Regions from separate parts of the Homo sapiens genome. Here region 1 is linked to region 2. Evidence: fine-mapped expression QTL. Tissue or cell type: whole blood. Region 2 holds a variant in brackets; the other region holds the start of a gene. All regions are shown on one strand. Distances are between the middles of the regions.

Region 1 (2,500 bases), 80 kb after region 2:
GGCAGGCCCTATCGGGTTCCCACAACCTCCAGTCATGGTCAGACCTCAGAAAGGTAAAATATGGACACCTTTTTTCTGCCCTAAATCTTTAAGACTCTCCATGCTTCTGGGTTATCAAAAGACTGTGTCCAGAGCATGTGCTTGTCAGGAACATTAATTAGGGTATTTGCATGCAAGAGTTGTCATGCAAGGGAGAGGGCAGGAAAGCTCTGAGGTGTTTCCACTGTAGTGTACACCACAATGTCACCAACCCTCTGGATGGGCTGATAAATCTAGCCTTACCACAATGCCCTGGGAGTGGGCTTGGGGCCTGCCACCTCCAGGAGCTCCTGTTCAAAGGGCATATAAGTCCCTATCAATGCCAAAGACTTGCCTCGCAAGAGCAGCTATAGGGACTGGGCAGGAATACAGATAGGGATCCTTCACTACATTGTTGGATGCTTCACACCTTTCCCAGCCACCTGCACGACCAGCTGAGTGGTACAGCCCTGAAGCCTATGTGAAAACAGGATAACTTGATGGTTCAGAGCCATTATTTCCATATGGGCTTAGGCAAGGTACTTAAACTCTCAGTGTCTCAGTTTCCTCACCTATAGAAAGGTAATAAAAGCAGTACCTATCCCCTTAGGGTTCGTGTGAGAATTAAATAAGCTAATATATATACCTGGTGCATGATAAGTTTTATATACGTGTTGGCTATGATCTTAGGGCAGCTGTGAGAGAGCTGAGCCCTAGAACCATAAAACCCTCCTAAGCACCATCTCCACTCATGGCCTGGCAGGTCGTGGAGCAGGAAATCCTGTGGGAAAAGGGAAGGCTTTGACTGTAGGAGTGGGTTGATTGTGGGTTCCTGGAAGGTGAGGACTCCTTCCCTAACATCCTCAATGCCCAGCAACACCTAATCTGGCTGCGGCAGGTGCTCAGGAAACGCTAGTCAAGGAGAAAGGCACTAGCTTTCGCTCTGCCCCCTGCCCCACCCCAGGGGCGGGACTGTAGAGGCGCCTATAAGGGAAGTTGTTCAGTCAACTCGGAAAAAGGGTAACAACCCGGAAAGTAGACTCACCGTCTTGGTCTAGAGACTGACCCCTGCACAGACAGACCCCTTCCCCTCTCTGCGAAAGGACCAAGCCCCAGAAGTCACTCCATCTCCTACGGCTCGCAATTTCCAGAGGCCCCCTGGCACCTTCCAGCCTGATGTCGTGCGTCAAGTTATGGTGAGTAGGGAGTGGCATGTCGATCGCAGCCTCCGACATTCACACCCAGAGAGCCCCACAGACTCGCTCAGAGAACGTCTTTGAGTCCGGGGACGGTGGGGGCCGGCGAGGGAGGCTGGGGATTGCAGTGAGAACGCCGAGTCACAGGGGCGCGGGGAGCAGCGCTGAGGCACGGCACGGCCGGCTAGTGGGCGACACCCCTCTCTCAGGCCCAGCGGTGCCCCCGCCCCCTTGGTGTCCATCGAGGAACTGGAGAACCAGGAGCTCGTCGGCAAAGGCGGGTTCGGCACAGTGTTCCGGGCGCAACATAGGAAGTGGGGCTACGATGTGGCGGTCAAGATCGTAAACTCGTGAGTGACCCCGGTTGACCCCAGCCGCAATCTGGCCAAAAAGGTGGAGCCACTGTGCTCTGGGGCCTGAATGGCGAAGGGAGGGATTTTCCCACGACCCCGGTGCGACTCCAGCTCTCTCCTGGAGTGTAGGAAGGCGATATCCAGGGAGGTCAAGGCCATGGCAAGTCTGGATAACGAATTCGTGCTGCGCCTAGAAGGGGTTATCGAGAAGGTGAACTGGGACCAAGATCCCAAGCCGGCTCTGGTGACTAAATTCATGGAGAACGGCTCCTTGTCGGGGCTGCTGCAGTCCCAGTGCCCTCGGCCCTGGCCGCTCCTTTGCCGCCTGCTGAAAGAAGTGGTGCTTGGGATGTTTTACCTGCACGACCAGAACCCGGTGCTCCTGCACCGGGACCTCAAGCCATCCAACGTCCTGCTGGACCCAGAGCTGCACGTCAAGGTCAGCTGGTCTACACCCCTCTCAGCCTCAAGACAAGGCCCCAGAGCTGCTCCAGCCAGGCCCGCCGGACACTAGACCTCCAGAGCCCTGTCTATTGAATAGGCGTAGCCTCTCTCTCTGGACACAGGGCTGCCAGGGGACAAAGCCCAGCCAGGAGTTTTAGCTCCTGCCTACCAGGTGATAGAGGCCCTGAGCCACACGAGTCATTTCCACCAGCTGCCCCACCAGCCCCTCCAAAGAGTCATGGCTGACCCAGCCCTGGAGACTCAGACCTTGACCTAGCCCTACCACAAGGCACCTAGATCTACCATCCAAGGGAACCTCTTCCCTTGACCTCCACACTCCCTTTACAAAGCTGAACCTGCACCTTCTGGGGGCAGGGGGGTTCCTGGAGGCTCTCTGGCCCCCTTGTCTTCCCTACCTCCCACTTCTTTCCTTCCTTTGCAGCTGGCAGATTTTGGCCTGTCCACATTTCAGGGAGGCTCACAGTCAGG
Region 2 (2,757 bases):
CAGTGGTTGTACATGACTTTCAGTGAGTTACTTCACCTCTCCGTGCCTCATTTTCTTCCACCTATAAAATGGAGATACTAATTGTATGCACCCCACAGGGTTGGAAAGCACTTAGAACAGTACCCAACACAGAGCAAGTACTCAGTATATGTAAGTTACTGTTATCAGATGACTTAGTAAACAAGTTAAAAATTGGACCTGTCCCAGGGATTCTTGGACAGTCTTTTAAAAGCAGGTAGGATTTTTTATTTGTTGTAGCCATTTACCTGTTACAAAGCTTTTGTCTTCCAGGTATGTTCACTTTCATTCATGAACACATGGACTTAGTAAATACTTGCTAGGAAAGCATGGTATAGCAAGGCTTAGGTGGACCCAACTTCACCAGATAGCTTATGTAAGTTTTAACAGGGGCACGGGATAGGAATATTCTTTATTTTTATTGTTTGCTTATGTCATGGGATTGTCTGGATACTGGCAACTTTGTAATTTCTCTGTTAGAGACTTGGGGAAGCCCTCCTGCCAGGGCCCAAATAAGAAGGAATAATTGTGATGGTGTAAACCAGAGAAGCAGTGACTGGTTGCCTAGAGCGTCCATGGTGCTTTACCATGGACAAAACTCTTTAATTCACCCCTCCAAAAATAGGAGGAATCTCAAACTTCTGTTCAGACCTGGTAGATTGTTGAACAGCAAAGAAGAAAAACCTCACTGTCAGAGGACTTAGAAGCCAGCGTGAGTAAAATCTGATTCTTGCTTAAAGTTATCTAGAGTAAAAAGTAATAACCAAAAGTAATAAATTGTTTGTAGTACAGGTCAGCAATGGAAAGGGTCAGCACTCTAAAGTGGAAGGCTGACTGGAAAGGTGGCTTGGCAAAATCCTATTACTTTTGGTGAAGGGGCTCAGGCAAGGCTTCTCTGACTGTCATGTGGGCTGAGACCCCAGGCCCCTGCACCATGGGCTCCTAGGCCACATTGTTTCCCTTACCACCCTGAACTGTATTTGTTTGTTGGATTGTCTGTCTCCCTCACCTGACTGTGGGCTGCAAAGAGGCAGAGACCGTGTCACTCCTGTTACCTGTTAGCCATCCCACACCTAGGCAGAGCCTGGCACATAGCAGGTGTCCTATAAATACTGAATGAACAATGGTATGCACAGGAGCTGGGGAGTTCTCAGGAAGGATGGTTCCCACCCCAACCCGTACGCCAGCCAGTGCTGAGCAGAACCCCGGGCAAGTGAGAAAGGCAGCAAAAAGCAAAGGCCTAAAGTCACGAAGCTTGGCCTGGGTTAAGAAGGTCTCTGATCCTGAGGGGAGAGACCAGCAAGAGTTCCCAGGGCAGGAAGAAGAGTAATGTTAGCTACATATGATGAATGCTATTCCATCCCAAGCCATACTGGCCTCTTCAAACAGATTATTTCATGTAATCCTTGAACCATCTCATAAATTAGGAATTGTTACCCTGTGTTTTATAGATGGGGAAACTGAGACCTCAGGAAACAGCCTGCATAGGTAGCAAATATAGATGCAAACCTAGGTCTATAATTTTTCCAGTAAAATGAAGCTGGTTCAGCACTAACACCATTCTCTCATCATTCATTTATTTTCTT[TC/C]TTTCATTCCTCCCTTCCTTCCTTCCTTCCTTCCTTCTTTCCTTCTTTCTTTCTTTCCTTCTTTCCTTCTTTCCTTCTTTCCTTCTTTCTCTTTTCTTTTTGAGATGGAGTCTCACTCTGTCACCCAGGCTGGAGTGCAGTGGTGTGATCTCAGCTCACTGCAACCTCCGCCTCCCGGGTCCAAGCAATTCTCCTGCCTCAGCCTCCCGAGTTTACAGGTGCCTGACACCACACCCAGCTGATTTTTGTATTTTTAGTAGAGAGGGGGTTTCGCCATGTTGGCCAGGCTGGTCTTGAATTCCTGGCCTCAAGAGATCCACCCACCTCGGCCTCCCAAAGTGCTGGAATAACAGGCATGAGCCACCGTGCCCTGCCTCATCACTCGTTTTCATTCCAACCCTGCCCACTTCCAAGACATTAACTGCCAAGGGTACCAGCTTGGAAGCCCAGAGGTGGGACTCTCCTTCCAGCCCTGCCATGAAGCAGCTATGGAGCCTTAAGCATATCACCCTCTGGGCCCTGGTCTCTTCATCTGTACAGTAAGAGCTTGGGGCAGATGGTCTGGAAAAGGTACTTTTCTTCAAATCTGCAAGTTTATCTGGGAAACATATAGCAGCCATACCCCATGACTGCCCCACACTCCTCATTCCCACAATTGAGACTGAAGCTAAACAAAGAACTGGACATCAGCTCCAGTTTGATTCGTTTATTGACAAATCAAATGAAAAAAATTCACTTAAAAGAAGGGTATGTGATCACAAATGTAGCTAACAGGGGGAACGCATACAGCACCAGGGAGGGAGAGTGAGGCTGGACATACCATTACAGAGAGGAGGAAGAGAAAGAATGGCGCGGGGGGCGGAGGAAAGAGAGCACCTGCCAAAAATCCCACACTTTCCACTTCTCAGCTATCACTCAATCATTTTTCTGGACAGGGTTAACAGCTAGAAATGGTTTAAGGGCAACATCCAGGTAGTTTGTCTGGAAGATCAGGGAGATGAAGAGTTGGAGAGAATGTGGGTGTAGCATTTTGAAGGATTCTCCAGCTTGAACCTGTTGCCAGAACCCTTTTCATGGTGAACTGGGAGTCAGGAAGCTTAATCCTGGTCTCAGCTCAGCCATGAACTTGCTGTGTGACTTTGGGTGAATCAT

The links. PIP is the estimated chance that this variant, and not a neighbour inherited with it, causes the effect.
Region 1: RIPK3 starts here. The variant in region 2 is fine-mapped to the expression of RIPK3 in whole blood (INTERVAL, PIP above 0.99).

What each region holds. Positions count from the first base shown.
Region 1 is chr14:24,338,521-24,341,020 of GRCh38, reverse strand. It overlaps RIPK3 (receptor interacting serine/threonine kinase 3), which reads left to right and starts at 1,030. Exons shown (of 10, transcript NM_006871.4): 1 at 1,030-1,214; 2 at 1,424-1,564; 3 at 1,697-2,006; 4 at 2,454-2,500. The coding sequence starts at 1,195. RefSeq lists enhancers at 1,075-1,144, 1,165-1,364, 1,595-1,664.
Region 2 is chr14:24,418,823-24,421,579 of GRCh38, reverse strand. It overlaps NYNRIN (NYN domain and retroviral integrase containing), which reads right to left. Exons shown (of 9, transcript NM_025081.3): 9 at 2,297-2,757. Among named protein-coding and RNA genes, the nearest start is that of CBLN3, 9.5 kb to the left of the region's middle. The variant TC/C (reference allele first, on the strand shown) is at 1,605.